2 separate regions of the Homo sapiens genome follow, and region 2 is linked to region 1. The links come from fine-mapping of genetic effects on gene expression. A gene starts in region 1. The other region holds a variant in brackets. All regions are shown on one strand. Distances are from middle to middle. Region 1 holds the start of GPR35 (G protein-coupled receptor 35). Region 2 has its middle 19 kb from the start of CAPN10.

Evidence for each region. PIP is the estimated chance that this variant, and not a neighbour inherited with it, causes the effect.
Region 2: its variant is fine-mapped to the expression of GPR35 in kidney cortex (GTEx, PIP 0.91).

The regions. Positions count from the first base shown.
Region 1 is chr2:240,622,276-240,630,386 of GRCh38, forward strand. It overlaps GPR35 (G protein-coupled receptor 35), which reads left to right and starts at 3,205. Exons shown (of 2, transcript NM_005301.5): 1 at 3,205-3,293; 2 at 7,674-8,111. The coding sequence starts at 7,678. RefSeq lists enhancers at 2,402-2,551, 3,159-3,665 and a silencer at 7,837-8,111.
Region 2 is chr2:240,601,293-240,609,417 of GRCh38, forward strand. It overlaps a transcript of GPR35 not described here. Among named protein-coding and RNA genes, the nearest start is that of CAPN10, 19 kb to the left of the region's middle. The variant A/C (reference allele first, on the strand shown) is at 4,143.

The sequences.
Region 1 (8,111 bases):
GCTGCTTTAGCTGTAAACATCGTATGACCATGGGCTGTGGCTGGCAGGTATGTGCCTCATTGGTCTCAAGGTGGAGCTGAACGTAAACGGCTTTTCTCTGGCTCTCCCAGGCTCCTGCTTCCCTGACATCGCCTCACAGACTTCCCTTCAAAGCAGGGCTGTCCAATCTTTTGGCTTCCCCGGGCCGCATTGGAATAAGAAGAATTGCCTTGGGCCAAACATGAAATACACTAACACTCACGATAGCTGATGAGCAAAAAAAGGTCTCTGCGTAAATCTCATAATGTTTTAAGAAAGTTTACAAATTTGTGTTGGGCCACATTCAAAGCCCGCAGCCCGAGTGTTGGACAAGCTTGCTGCAGAGGCTCCCCTAGATAGGGCTGCAGGGGTGGCGTCCGGCAGCTCTAGCTGGAGAAGCAGGAGGAGGGGCAGGAAGGAATCCTGTTCGGAGCTCCTCGCGTCACACATACAGCCCAGCGGGGTGAAGTGGGAGGGGCTGGCGCTGCTGCAGGGGGCTAACCTTGGGGGTGAGGGGGCAGCCTCGGAGAGGAAGCTGCCCAGGAGCAGAGGCTGGGGGCGGAGGGCCCCGGGCAGTGCCCCCGTGCCCACAGCAGGACCCTGGCTGCCAGTTCTCCGCAGAGGGCCAGGTGGTCTGAAGCTGCCCAGCAGGGAGAGAACAGGCCTGGCCTGGACTGGAAACCTGCCATCTGGCCTCTCGAACCTGGGGACTCCGGGTGTCCTCGAAGAAGGGCCTGAGCAGCAGCAGAGGACCCCAGGCGACCGTGCCTGAGCCGGGCGCCGACGACGACTGAGCACCTGATATGTCCCCGGCACTCGCAGCCCCGCGGCCGGAGTCGCTGTGGGTGAGCGGTCGTCGAGCTTCACAGAGGCCGGGCTCTGTGCCAGGGCCCCGACAGGGCAGGAAGCAGATAGAGTCCCACAAGCACAAGCCCAGTGCGCAGAAAGGGTTACTTAAAAAATAAGTTCTGTGATAAAATCAAACAGGGTGAAGGGCTGGAAACAGGTCATGAGGGCGCAAACAGGTCGTGAGGGCGCAAACAGGTCGTGAGGGCGCAAACAGGTCGTGAGGGCGCAAACAGGTCGTGAGGGCGCAAACAGGTCGTGAGGGCGCAAACAGATCGTGAGGGCGCAAACAGGTCGTGAGGGCGCAAACAGGTCGTGAGGGTGCAAACAGGTCGTGAGGGCGCAAACAGGTCGTGAGGGTGCAAACAGGTCGTGAGGGTGCAGCTTTGGGGAGAGAGGGGCCCTGGGGGTGAGCGGGGAGCTAGGAGAGAAACAGCGCTCTGGAGGGGCCCGGGCAAGGCCTGCCTGAGTGGGAGGGGGCAGAGCACGAGGGCCCAGGCTCCAGGCTGGGTGGGACTGCCCTGAAGTGCCTGCGGAGACAGCCAAGGGGCAGATGGAGAGAGGTAGGGGGTGGGCTGGGGACAGCGTTTCCTGTACACAGGTGGAACCTGGTGGCAAGGGGCCCTTCCCAGAGACAGTCAGAGTCTCTAAATGTCCAGTTTCTTCCCCAAGTCCACACAGCCCAGAAGAATCCGCTGGGACCATGTGGCCCTGCCCAGTGGGGCTTCCCTTCCAGTGTGTGAGGAGCACAGGTGCCAGGCCACGTCAGGGAGGCCAGGCCTGGTGGGGACGGGGTGCCCCAGGCCACTGCTGGGGAGGAGTGATGCCCAGCAGAGGGGGCACGGTGGAGTTCATGGCTGGCCTGGTGGTGGGGGGGGTGGGGGAGCTCTGCAGGGCCCTGGCTCTGGTGGGCTGGGTAGGCCTGCTTGGGGCACCATCTGATCTGCCAGAGGTGGAAGGAGCACTCCTGGGAGATGCCGTGCCCTGCACCTCCAGTCCCTGCTTGACGGCGGCCGGGCTTGGACTGATCAGGTGCCGTGCCTTCTGCTGACCCCAGAGGCCAGACCCTGTGGCCAGAGTGAGGGATGGATGAAATCCCAAATCTGAGCCTCCTGCCCGAGGATGAGGCCCCTCTCCAATGAACATCATGGCCCATGGAGACTGGGCAGGGAACCCAAGGGCGCACACTGGGGACTGGGCCTGGAGGGACAGCCGGGGAAGCAGGAGGAAGGGCAGGAAGGACAGCAGGAGGAAGCAGGAAGAAAGGGACAGGAACCAGGCCCGGGATGACAGCAGAGAAGGACCAATGCCCAGCCAGGGCTTCCTCACGTGCCTCTGGGTAGAGAGCCCTGGTCTGGCTCAGGAGGCCCAGGCACTGGTCTCAGACCTGCCACCACCTGTGTGACGCTGGGCCAAGCGCTTCCCTTCCCTGGGCGTCCGTTTCCACCGCTGTAAAGTGGGGAGGGGTGAAACTGAAGCTCTCCCCAGCCTATCCCAGCCGTTGAGGAGGGAGAGGCTGTGGTCAGGGGCTGTGGGGCCCACGTTGAGGAGACGAGGCTCCTGCCCTCAGGGTGGACAGGGCCCAGGAAGGGGGTGCTCTGCACCATGGGGGCGCAGCCTGGGCCTACGGGCTCCCCCACCATGAGCTCAGAAGGAAGATGTCCGCTGAGGAGTTGGGGGCCAGGGAGAATATTCTAGACCAGATAGGGGTGGTCTGGGTAGGCTTCTGAGGGGGTGGGCTTGGAGGAGGGGCCGGTGGCCAAGTCGGGGGGAAGCAGGGGAGGAGCCAGCCTGCCTGCGTGTGCCTCTCACCTGTGTGCATTGGCGTGTGCATGTGTGTGTGCATGTGTGCCAGCGTGTGTGTGTGTATTGGAAGGCGCCCACGGAGCGTGTCTGCATGAACCAGGATGAGTGTGCGTGCTGCACCCTGTCTTGGGGCTGGGCATGAGGCGCTGGGGAGGGCGAGCTGACCGCAGACCCTGGGAGGGCTGGGCCCTGGGAAGGTTTCCGAGATGACAGGGCAGAAGTGGGCTGGGGAGGAGGAAGGCTCCGTGGGCGGGGCTGGAGCGTCTCTGGTTTTGCTGTCTGTCTCTCACGCTGTTTCCAGAACAAATGTGTGCCCTCAGCAAGGATGCTGGCTCTTCAGAGGTGTCAGCACAGGCAGCCGGCACCCCACTTCCCTCCCAGAAATCCCCCACGCCCTCTAGCTGGGGCTGGTGCAGGAGCAGTGGGGAACTCCTGTTACCCCTGACCTGCTGCCGTCAGTCAGCCGCCCGCCCCCCCACCTTAAGGAGGGGCAGAGTCAGGGACCAGCCCTGAGGGGTGGCTCACCCCAGCTTCACTTCCCCCAGCCCTTCTCAGACAGCCACTGTGCAGGCTTTGGCAGCGGGGGTCACACACTCCACCCGGGAGGCCAAAGCTGCCTGCAGGTCAGTGCCGCCCACTGCCCTAGGGGCCTCCCAGCGGGGCAGGGGCATGGTGGGGGTCTCAGAGTGGGGTGAGGCTGTGATGGGGTCTCAGAGCAGGGTGAGGCTATGATGGGGTCTCAGAGTGGGGTGAGGCTGTGACGGGGGTTCTCAGAGCGAGGTGAGGCTGTGACAGGGTCTCAGAGCGGGGTGAGGCTGTGATGGGGGTCTCAGAGCAGGGTGAGGCTGTGATGGGGTCTCAGAGTGGGGTGAGGCTGTGATGGGTGTCTCAGAGTGGGGTGAGGCTGTGATGGGTGTCTCAGAGTGGGGTGAGGCTGTGATGGGGGTCTCAGAGTGGGGTGAGGCTCTGATGGGGTCTCAGAGTGGGGTGAGGCTGTGATGGGTTCTCAGAGCAGGGTGAGGCTGTGATGGGTTCTCAGAGCAGGGTGAGGCTGTGATGGGGTCTCAGAGTGGGGTGAGGCTGTGATGGGGTCTCAGAGTGGGGTGAGGCTGTGATGGGGGTCTCAGAGTGGGGTGAGGCTGTGACGGGGTCTCAGAGCGGGGTGAGGCTGTGATGGGGGTCTCAGAGCGGGGTGAGGCTGTGATGGGGGTCTCAGAGCGGGGTGAGGCTGTGATGGGGTCTCAGAGCGGGGTGAGGCTGTGACGGGGTCTCAGAGTGGGGTGAGGCTGTGATGGGGGTCTCAGAGTGGGGTGAGGCTGTGATGGGGGTCTCAGAGCGGGGTGAGGCTGTGATGGGGTCTCAGAGCGGGGTGAGGCTGTGACGGGGTCTCAGAGTGGGGTGAGGCTGTGACGGGGTCTCAGAGTGGGGTGAGGCTCTGATGGGGTCTCAGAGTGGGGTGAGGCTGTGATGGGGTCTCAGAGTGGGGTGAGGCTGTGATGGGGAGTCTCAGTGAGGTGAGGCTGTGTTGGGGTCTCAGGTGGGCTGAGGCTGTTGGGGTCTCAGGGGTGGCTGAGGCTGATGAAGACTTGGAGCCTGTGTCTGGGTAGCAGCTTGTTGGAGTGTGGGATGTGACATTTAAAAACAAGAATGAAGAATACCCCGTGCTGTGGCCCCGAGGTGAGCAGCTACTTTGGTGAACTCGTGTCACTCACAGCCCCATCCTGGGTCCTGGGGTGTGGTGTGCTGTGTGGGGCCCAGGCCCAGTGGGGTCACAGGTACGGGGGACTCTGGTGCCTGGGCCACAGGGATCTGCACCTCACTGCGTGCCCCCACGTCTTCAGCAGTGGTTGGGGCCTGTGGTCTCAATCCCAGGCCAGCCAGGCACTCTGGGGTCTGGGCGGGTCCCGGGTCCAGACAGGGGGAAGGGCTGGGGAGGGGCTCTGGTGTGGCTGGATCGCCCGTCTATGGCCAGGTTTCTCTCCTGGATCACTCAGTGCAGAATCAAAGGGCACTTTTCTGCTTTTGTGTGCAGAAGCCGAGGGTGACCTTGTCATCAGAAGGGGAAGCGGGGCCTCAGAGGCGTGCTGCTGGCTCCAATCCCCAAAGCCTCCTGGGCAGGAAGTGGAAGGGCCCCATCCCCACGGTCCCCGGCAGCGGGAGCTCCCTGAGGCTGATGGTGCTGGTGTCTGTCGAGGAAGACAGGCCTGAGGAGCTGAGGCGGGAGGCCAGCTACGGTCCACGGCCTGGACACAGATTCCTGTGCGGGACTGGGGCAGTAGGTGGGCATCTGTGCTGGCCATGTTAGCTCCCAGGGGCCCCATGCCATCTGGGCTAAAGCCTGGGCCTTGATTTCCTGAACTTTTCTGGGAGGCACTCCACGGGCGAGACAAGGACCCATGAACAGGGCACTTCTTCGAAGCCTACGTGCACCTCGAAACTCTTGCAACATTTGCATTTTTCTCCCTAATAGTTCAGTGTTTGTTTTATTATAAACAGGAAAATTTAAATGTTGTAGTTAGAGTTTTTTTCTTCTTCTTAGAGATGGGGTTTCACTCTGTCTCCTAAGGCTGGAGTGCAGTGGTGGGATCATAGCTCACTTCAGCCTCAACCTCCTGGGCTCAAGCCGTCTTCCTGCCTCAGCCTCCCGAGTAGCACGCATCACCAGCCCAGCTAATTTTCTGTCTTTTTTTTTTTTTTTTTTTTTTTTTTTGTAGAGACGGGGTCTCCCTGTGATGCCCAGGTTGTTCTTAAACTTCTGGCCTCAAGTCATCCTCCTGTCTCAGCCTCCCAAAGTGTTGGGATTACAGGCATGAGCCACCGTGCCTGCCTGCAGTTAAACATTCCCCCACAAAATACTGGGCCACACCGAGGCTAGTATGAAAGTTGCAGCCCTGGGTATGTGTGACCTGAGAGCCCCTTGGCAGCCATGGGGAGCGATGGGGGAAGCTGGGGCAATGGGAAGGGGTCTAGGCACACGAGCCCTCGGGTCCTCACCTCCCACGAGGCAGGGTCCCAGGCTGCCTCTACTCAAGGTGGGGCAGCAAAAGAATCGCCCTCTAGCTGTGCAGACCCCCTCCCCCTCCAGGTCTGCACACCGCCCAAGGCTGGCCCTGGACTTCTGGTGGATTCAAGTACTCAGGTGGGGAGAGTAGGAGGCCAGTCGCACGGAGCCCTCCCCAACGCACAGTGCCTGCCCAGCTCAGGTGCCTCTGAGGTGTAGATTCTGAGCAGGTTCTGGGATCTCCTGGCCCCCAGCGGGGGCTGCCACAGGAGTATAGGCCCAACAGGAAGGGAAGATCCCAGCGATTGGTTCCAGTGGGTTCTGGGGATGTCCTCGGAGCCTGGCCTGGCTCAGGGTCCCTCCAAAAGTCCCTGGAACGAGGGTGAAGTGTTGCTCATGAATCAGAGAGAAAGCAAGCAGGACCCTCAAGAAGGGAGGAGAGAGACCACTGGGCGTGCAGCACTTTGCACTCGGGGGAAGGGCTCCTGAAACTTGGAAGTCAGCAAATATCTGCTGTACTTCACCAGAGGTGGGATCTAAGGAGACAGAATGAAGCCAGGGGGCAGAATGTTTCGTTTCTGTCTGAAACCTGTGCCCTCCATCCCTCATGGACTGGGGACCTGGAGTTCCCGGGGACCACCGTGGGGAAATGCGTCCCAGCACTAATGGTCCCCAGCAGCTGCAGTCACGGGGTTTGGGCGCTCTCCCCTCCTGATTTGGGGGACCTTTTGTGCTCCTCTGGGCAGAGGGAGGAGGCAGAGGGAGGAGGAAGGCCCTTCGCTGTGGGCTGAGTCCTTCCCACCTTCCATACCAGCCCAGCAGGAAGCCACTGCAGGATGCCCCAGAGGACAGCCTGATGGTTGGGGGAGAGGCTTCTCCCGCCCTCACCCCTCCGGGTTCTTCCTGGACCCACTGAGTAACCCAGGTGGTGGGACGTGTGGCTGTGAGTCCTGGACTCTGGGCGCTCACCAGCAGCTCCGTCTCACACCTGCCTGCGTGTGACACCAGCACCCCTTATGATGAGGAAACAAGTTTGCCCAGCTGCAGGGGTGGCCGAGTCAGGATGACTCTAGCCCGTGTCCTGGACACCAGACCCTGCCCAGGTCCAGCCGGGGCTGGTCTCAGCCTTCCTGGGCTATGTCGCGGAGGGTGTTGGGGACAGCGAGAGGCTGGCGTGGACAGTGGAGGGGTGACTTTGTGGGTGGTCCTGATAGTGACGGAGAGGAGGATACTCAGCTCCACCCCTGGGCGGCCCCTGAGCAGCACGACTGGGCCTGAAGGGGCAGGGCTGCCGTCACAGGCTCTGGCCCCTGGGAGCTCAAGGGGTGAATCCCTGATCCCAGGTGTGGGACTGGGATGGGGCCTCAGGCTGATGCAGGCAGGACCTCCAGAGCTCAGGACTGGGTGGGTGGGCTCACAGGGAGGTAGGGGCAGGCCAGAGTCCCAGCTGTCCTGGACTCTGCTGTGGGGAAGGGCTGATGCAGGTGTGGAGTCAAATGTGGGTGCCTCCTGCAGCCGGGTGCCAGGAGGGGTGGAGGGGCCACCCTGGGCTTTGTCCGGGAGCCTGGTCTTCCCGTCCTTGGGCTGACAGGTGCTGCTGCCTCTGAGCCCTCCCTGCTAAGAGCTGTGTGCTGGGTAAGGCTGGTGGCCCTTTGGGCTCCCTGTCCAGGATTTGCGCTCTGGAGGGTAGGGCTTGCTGGGCTGGGGACTGGAGGGGAACGTGGAGCTCCTTCTGCCTCCTTTCCTGCCCCATGACAGCAGGCAGATCCCAGGAGAGAAGAGCTCAGGAGATGGGAAGAGGATCTGTCCAGGGGTTAGACCTCAAGGGTGACTTGGAGTTCTTTACGGCACCCATGCTTTCTTTGAGGAGTTTTGTGTTTGTGGGTGTGGGGTCGGGGCTCACCTCCTCCCACATCCCTGCCCAGAGGTGGGCAGAGTGGGGGCAGTGCCTTGCTCCCCCTGCTCACTCTCTGCTGACCTCCGGCTCCCTGTGCTGCCCCAGGACCATGAATGGCACCTACAACACCTGTGGCTCCAGCGACCTCACCTGGCCCCCAGCGATCAAGCTGGGCTTCTACGCCTACTTGGGCGTCCTGCTGGTGCTAGGCCTGCTGCTCAACAGCCTGGCGCTCTGGGTGTTCTGCTGCCGCATGCAGCAGTGGACGGAGACCCGCATCTACATGACCAACCTGGCGGTGGCCGACCTCTGCCTGCTGTGCACCTTGCCCTTCGTGCTGCACTCCCTGCGAGACACCTCAGACACGCCGCTGTGCCAGCTCTCCCAGGGCATCTACCTGACCAACAGGTACATGAGCATCAGCCTGGTCACGGCCATCGCCGTGGACCGCTATGTGGCCGTGCGGCACCCGCTGCGTGCCCGCGGGCTGCGGTCCCCCAGGCAGGCTGCGGCCGTGTGCGCGGTCCTCTGGGTGCTGGTCAT
Region 2 (8,125 bases), 21 kb before region 1:
GGTTGGCACCCATCATCGCCCCAGTGTAGATTGGCTCCACTCGACCTGGCTGCTTTGGCCATTTGGTCTACCAGCTGGAACCATGTTCCTGGGTGTGGAAAACGCTCCCTCCGAAGCCTGCGGAGAGCCCTGAGGCCTTGTGCTTCCTTCTGATGGGAGGTTCCAGATGCAGTTGGAGGGGATGTCTGGCAGGGCTCTAACCCCCAGCCAACCTAAACATTTCTGGTGCAGAAGGCCCCGGCCTGGTGTTGTTTGTCCCTGGCTGCCTCCTGCTCTGACACCATCAGCATCCTGTTGCCAAGGTCATGGATCAGTGCGGTGCTCTTCAGGGTGTCCGGCCAGCTGGGGTCTCTGTCCTGTATTCCGGCAGAGGCCCCAGGAGAAACAGCAAATGCCTTTGTCCATTCCATACAAATTTCATATAAATGTGAGCAGCTTCTGATCTTCCGTGGCGTATTCGTCCAGTTGATGGCCAACCCTGGGTACCTGGACCTCCAGGACCTGCTGCACTGGGCTGCCCCTCGGCTGTGTGTGCACTCGCCACGTGGCCCTCCAGGAATCCCATCCCACGGGGCCACACTGAACCAAATGGAGAGAGCAGGGCCACCACCCTCTCTCCGCATGCCACGGCTGCTCTGGGACCCGGGCAGGAGGGGACAGTCTTGGCCTTCCAGTGTCCCTCTTGGCCTTCCCACGGCCATCTCTACCCCAAGGATGCAGCAGAGATATCGGTCGCTCCCCAGGTGTCAATCCCAGTCACAGGCTCAGAGACCGGGACATGGCCCCGGGTGGGTCTGTAGGCCCTGTGGGCTCATGTGAGCTGGTCCTGGGCAGGACTCCATTATTAACTGCCTGTGATGTGTCCCACTGTCATGGAGCCCTGGTGACTCTTGGGGACCAGCATCAGCTTGGGGCCTGTGTGCTCAGTGGCTCCCAGATGCCTGGATATTCTCTTCCTGGTGCACATAGTCCCCGGGGAGGTCCTTGTCATGCACACTTGCTGATGTGGGGAGTGTCCTTCATCTTGCAGGCCTGGCCACCTCTTCAGTCAGCAGATACCTGGGCTGAAAACCGACTCGGGCAGTGTGGGCCCAACTGGGGCTCTATCGGAGTGACCACCCTCAGCCCTCCTGGACCCCTCTGCCGGCTCCACCTGAGCGCTGCCCTCGCTGGCAGCCCTGCCTTGCTCTGCTGCCATTCCGTAAGCCCTGCAGGCAGGCCCCTTGGCGCCCTTCAGCCGTGTTCATGATTGTCTCCTGGCCTCTGCTGTTTAGAGGTCTAATGCCCTCCGCCCCCGGCGAGCCAAACCCAGTGATGGTGGTTCCTGCCACCAGCTTCCTGTGGCACCGCTGCCACTCCCGCCAGGCTCCTGGGGCACCGCCACCACTCCCGCCAGGCTCCTGGGGCACCGCCGGCCACTCCCGCCAGGCTCCTGGGGCACCGCCGCCCACTCCCTCCAGGCTCCTGGGGCACCGCCGCCACTCCCGCCAGGCTCCTGGGGCACCGCCGCCACTCCTGCCAGCCTCCTGCGGCACAGCTGCCACTCCCTATTAACCAGCATGGCACAGGTGAGCGGTGTGACCTTGGTCTTCCCAGGGAACCAGTGCTTGGCAGCTCACACCACACACGCCTACGCCTACCCTCCACCAGCCACAGCAGTTGTGGCATCTCTACCCTGCCCAGCAAAAGTGGAAGTGTTGCCTGTGCCGCTAGGAACCTCCAGGTTTGCTCCACCTCCAGGGGCCTTGCCAGGGTGTCAAACCTGTGTCTCGGGACACTGCTGTTAGGTCTCCAGCTTCCCTATCAGGCGCCTCAGCACCCAGTCCTACCAGTGCTCCCGCCTCCCGTCCCCAGCTGGCTGGGCCTGCAGCCCCCTCCTGTGCCCCGAGCTGGCCGGGCCCGCAGCCCACTCCCTGGTCACTGGATGTTGCTGACACTTCACTCGGTCAGAGCCCTAGCACCCAAGGGGGGCCAGGGCCTGACGGGGGTGGAGCGAGGGGTGGGCCGCGTCTGTGCAGGCTCAGAAGCTTCCTAAGAGGCTGGAGAGTGGAACCTTCAGGCACCACGCACTGCCTCCTCCCTGCCCACGGTCCTGGTTTCTCCAGATGGGGCCTTGGCCTTGGCTAGGTGTTGATCAGGAGCTGGGAGTGCTGCGCCCCGCCCAACTTCTCCAAACTCCAGCCAGGGCACCTCAGTGAGGCCTCAGCCACCTGCGCCTTATTTGCTTCCTCCTTGGAGGCCCTCGTGTCTGTTCATTCATCAAACAGCAGCTGGGGCCCCCAGCAGACCCCCTTCCCCAACTTTCCCACTGGACACTGGAACCAGTTTCACAACTGGACTGGACAGGACGACCACCTTGTGCCAGGCGCCAGCTATCTCCCCTGACCAGTGATGGGTCCTCATTGCCCGTGGGCCGTGAGTGACCCAGTTCCAAATCCCAAATTAGTGACTCTCTTCTCCAATGGGGGTTGGATTCTCCAGAAGCAGAGGCAGACATAGAATTTGGGTGCAAGGTATTTCGGAGGGAAGGTGGAAGAGGTGGGGTTGGTGAGGGAGAAGCCTGGAGTGTCGGTGGCCGGGGTGCCCCCACCTGGCTGAAACGCCTGGTCTTTGTGCCCTGCCTGGCTCAGCCTCCCCAGGCAGACTACCCCATGGCATCCCTGGACAAGGCTGCCCCCAAGAACGCTGCCCACAGCCCAGCCATGGGCCTTCCCTTGGGGCTACCGCCCCGGCTCACACCTGCTGGCCAGCGTATTTACTCCTTGCTGGCTGCACCCTCTCAGCAGTGGCTGTGTAGACCATAACCCTGGGAACACCTGCGGGGAGAAGCGCCCTTGGCCTGGCGGCTTGGGGGAGACACCTGGGGTGTCAGGAGGGAAGGAAGGCAAGCAGGGGTGAGGCACTGTGGGACTTTTCCTGCTTTCTGGGCCAGTGGCCACAGGCCACCCAGTGACATTTCTCTCTCAGCGTCTGCTGGGGTGGACTCTGCAGCGGCTGCAGCCAGCCTGGATCGGCTCCTCGCACAGCTCTGCTTGAGGGTGAAGGCCATCTAGAAACCCTCAGTCCCCTCTCAGCCTCAGAGCTGATAGCGCTGCCTGACCATCAGCAAGCTTGTAATCAGCACCACCTCCAGCATGCCTGCTCCTGGATCTCCGTGAGGCTCCCCTGCCTGTGTCACCCAGGGGCCTCTAGGGGTGCTCTGGAGCTGGGAGCCACTGTCCAGCACTTCCTGCCCTCTCCGGCCTCTCTTGGCTGTCTGCCAAGCAGTCACTCAGTCTCCTATTGACCACTCGTTTTGCCGCAAGGCTGCTGGTTTACGTGAAAATAGAGAAAGCCAAAGAGTTTCCTCACCCCTGTAAGATTTACTGGCTCTTCTGGCATTGCACCTGCCTGAGTTCCTTGGTGGGGCCCCTCTTTGAGTTCCTTTGGGCTGCTGTAACAAAGCACCATAGCCTGGGCAGCTCGTAAACAGTGGAAATGCGTTGCTCTTTGTTCTGGAGGCTGCAAGTCCAAGATTGAGGCACTGGAAGACCTGGTGCCTGGTGAGGACCTGCTTCCTGGTCCAGAGACAGCACCTTCTCTCTGTGTCCTGATGTGGTGGAAGGGCAAAGGAACTCCCTGGGGCCCGTTTTATGTGGGCACTCATCCCATTCGTGACGCCTCTGCCTTCATGACCTCATCACCTACCAGAGGTCCCCACCTTTTCATTCCTCACCTTGGGGATGAGGACTTCAGTATGTGAATTTCGGGGACATAAATGTGTCATCTATAGAAGGGCCCATCTCTTACACAAATGCTGGGTCCCCAGTGGCCTGTGTCCTAGCAAATGAGAGCCACCCTGAAAAATAAAATCCTGTCTCCCCAACGCCAGCCCTGGCAAGGCACCCAGAACTCTCCGGAATGCTTGAAGGCAGGGCCTGGCCTTTCCATGGGGTCCAGGGCTGTGGGGTCCCTGGCGGTACTGTGGGCCTGCAGAGTGGGGCATGTGGGCTGAAGACCGTCTCCCCACCATGGTGGGAAGGGACAAAGGGTGGCCCTGGCAGATCCGGACGGGCAGGACTGGGTGTGTCCCATGAGAGCACCTCCTTCCTGGCCTTTCCTGTGGACTTTGTCCCACACCACCTGCCTGGGTTCCTTCCTTT[A/C]GTCACTTCCAGCTCCAGGCACAGCAGTTGGTGACTCCTTGGTGGGAGCCGTGTCCCACCCGGTCCTGATACTGCCGTCTTCTCTTTCACAGTCCTCCAGGCTTGGGCCAGCCTTGGGGGCAGCAGAGCTTCTGGGGTGAGTGTCGAGATCCTGTGTCCTGAGAGCGGTAGTCAGGGAGAGGGCTGGTCGGGGCAGGGCTGCCCGGGCAGGACACAGGATGCGGCCGGCCAGGCTGGGGCCAAGGTGTTCAGACCTGGACTTTGGGCTCGTGCTTTCTTCATGGTTGCGCCTTGCTCGCTGTCCCTTGGAGTCTTCATTTGGTTTTGCTTTTTTTGTTTGTTTGTTTTCACCTAATTTTTGCCAGACTTAAGCTAGTTTTGCTGCCTTTTGAAACTAGTGGAAGAATCATTTTATTCCTGGGGATAATTTGGGGCCTTTTGATCCCAACGTGAAGCCCTGCACATGGCTGCTTCATCAGGGGAAGGGTCTTTTCTGCTTTGGAGGAAAGGCTTTGGCAGGCAGGCTGACCTGGGAGTCTCCGGAGCTCTCGGCTCTCTGTAGCATCCTGGGGAGCTCAGACCATGGCTGCAGGGCTCTGGCCATAGCTTGCAGGCCATCTGGTTAGTGCTGCCCCCCAAACCCGGCCATTCCTCTCTAGTCCCCAGCAGGTATAGCCAGTGTCCACATAGACAGCACTGCCTCAGATCTGGGCTGGGACCACAACACTCACTCAGGGATCCCAGGGAACATGGCACCAGGTTTAGTAGGTTTAGTCGGGCATATGCAGTGTCCCTTACCCAGGTCAAGGCTCAGGCTGGGCCCATCTTAGCTGCCTGGGACACCCAGTCCTTTTATGAATCTGCCAGGGGAGGAGCAGCCAGGCTTGGGCTGGGGCCTGGATGGACGTGACATCGGGCACTGTGGCATTGTGTGCCTGTCTCTGTGTTGCAGCTGACATGGGCTCATTGCTCCTTCTCCAAGCCCTCTGAGGACATCAAAAGCGTGGACGCATCACTTTCCACCATCTTGCTGCCCACTGTCCCTCCATCCTGAGGCCTCCTAAGCACATGTGTGGGGTGGCAGGCACACTGCTGATAGCTGTGGATGCGGCCGTGACATCCTTCACCCCTGCCCCCATGGCATGCATGATCCATTAGGGAGGACCGTCTGCACAAAGGTAATCCATTGACTCAGACAGGGGGTTCATAGAAGAACAGGTGAGAGTGGCAGGGGGGGTATTCCTTGACCAGCTGAGGGTCAGCCAAGGGCAGGAAAGGGGCTGGGCACCCTCAGGGAATTGAAAGAAGCTCTCTGTGCCTGCAGTGCGGGGAGTGGGCTTGGAGAATATGGCAAGAGCTGAGGCTGGAGATGTAAGCAGGGGCCTTAAGTGTTGTTTAAGGAGCCTGAGTCTTATCTCCTGGGCAATTGGGAGCCACTACATAGTTTAAAGCAGGGCCTAACATACATATGTTTGAAATCTTTCTCTGGCTGAAGTCTCGAGGATGAATTGGAAGTAGAGGACCAACTAAAAAGTTGTTGCAGACATTAAGGTGGTGTCCTGGGTTAGGTGGGAGGTGATGGAGAGGAGAATAGGCTAGTGTTGACATATACCCAGGAAGCAAAACCATTGGGGCATGGTGCTTAATGCTTGATTGGATTGATCACATAGATGACTATGAGGAGGACTGACATATTTCAATCTATGAACGTGGTATACCCATCCATTTACTTATTTTTAATTTTTTAAAAATTTTTTTTTTTTTTGAGACAGGATCTCACTCTGTTTGTCCAGGCTGAAGTCCAGTGGCAGGATTTCAGCTCACTGCAGCCTCAACCTCCTGGGCTCAGGTGATTCTCCCACCTTAGCCTCCCGAGTAGCTGGGACTACAAGCACAGATCACCACACCTGGCTAATTTTTTGCATTTTTGTTTTTTAGTAGAAACAGGGTTTCGCTATGTTGCCCAGGCTAGTCTCAAACGCCTGGACTCCAACAATCCACCCACCTTGGCCTCCCGGAGTGCTGGGATTATAGGCTGGGGCCACTGTGCTGAACCCTGTCCATTTATTTGGATCTTCTTTAATTTCTCCCAGCAATATTTTGTAACTTCAAGCATACGTTTCCCACTTGTGCCTAGGTACTTTGTTTTCCAATGCTTGTAAATGGTATTGTATCTTTAGTTTTATTTTCCAATTGTTTTTTGCTAGTATATAGAAGTGCATTTTTTGGTATATTAATCTTGTATCCTGTAACCTTGATAATGCATTTATTAGTTCATAGTGTTTTTTGCTTCTTTTGTTCTTTTCTGGTAAATGCCTTAGGATTTTCTTTTTCTCCCGACTCCCCGCCTTCCTCCTCTTCTTTTTCTTCTGCCTTAGGATTTTCTTTTTCTTCTTTCTCCTCCTTCTCTTCCTCCTCCTCCTCCTCCTCTTCTTTCTTCTTTCTTCTTCTTCTTCTCTTTTTTGTTTTTAAATTGAGACAGGGGCTCACTCTGTTGCCCAGGCTGGAGTACAGTGATGCAATCTTAACTCACTGTAGTCTCAAACTCCTGGGCTCAAGTGATCCTCCCACCTCAGCTTCCCAAGTAGCCAGGACTACAGGTGTGCACCATCATGCCTGGCTAATTTTTATATGTTTTGTAGAGATTGGGTCTTGCTATGTTGCTCGGGCTGGTCTTGAACTCCTATCTTCAAGCGATCTTCTCACTTCAGCCTCCCCACATGTTGGGATTACAGGCCTGAGCTACTGTGCCAAGCTGAATTTTCTACATGCATGATTATGTCACATGTGACCATAGGTAATTTTACTTCTTCCTTTTCTATCTGCTTTTTTCCCTTGCCTTATTTCCTCTGGCTGGGACCTCCAATACCGTTTTTAATAGAAATGTGAGAGCCACTTCGTTTGTTTCTGAGTATAGTGAGAAAGTTTGGTCTTTTACCATTGCCCAGCTTGAAGTTTCCTATAGTTTATCTATAGGTGATCTTTATCACGTTGAGGAAGTTCTCTTCTCTTTCTAGTTTGCCGAGAGTTTCTATTATTCATGGATGTTGCATTTTGTCAAATATTTTTCTGCATCCATTGAGATAAATATATACATTTTACCATTTATTCTATTAATTGATGTTCTAATGCTAAAATAAACCTTTTATTTCTTGCATACTTTTTCATGATGTGTTATTTGTTTTATATATTGCTGGATTTGATTTGCTAATATTTTATTAAGGATTTTATGTCTATGTTTATGCATGATATTGGCCTGTAGTTTTCTTTTCTTGTAATATCTTTGTCCAGTTTTGGTACAGGGTAAAACTTGACTTAGAAAATGAGCTGGCCAGTGTTTCTCCTTTTTTCTGATGTGGTTAAGATTGGTATTATTTTATTCTTAAGTGTTTGATGGAATTCATCAGTAACACCATCTGGGTGAGGTATTTTCTTTGTAGAAAGGCTTCAAATTATGAATTCAACAACTTTAATAGATATAAGCTTGTTACATTTTATTTTTCTTGTGTAAATTTTGGCAAGTTGTGACTTTCAGTAGATGTTTTTCCATTTCATCAAGATGTCAAATGTAATTTCATGATGTTCTTACTAATATTCTTGTATTATTCTTCTGATGTCTGTAGGGTCTGAAGGGATGTCTCATCTTTTATTCCTGATATTAGTAATTTGTGGATTTTTTTTCTTTGATCAATCTAGCCAGAGCTTTCTCAATTTTTTTTTCTTTTCAAATAACCAATCTCCATTTTATTGATTTTCGTTTTTTTCTGCTAGTACATCAAATTTTCACTCTTTCTTATTTCTTCTGCTTACTTGGGTTTCATTTGTTCTTGGTGTTGTTGTTTTCTAGATTCTCAAAGTGGAATCTTAGGTAATGATTTTAGACCTTTCTTCTTTCCTAACATGAACACTGAGAGCTACAGATTTTCCTCTAAGCATCACACTAACCTTATCTCACAAAGACCGGAAAGTTGCATTTTTATCAT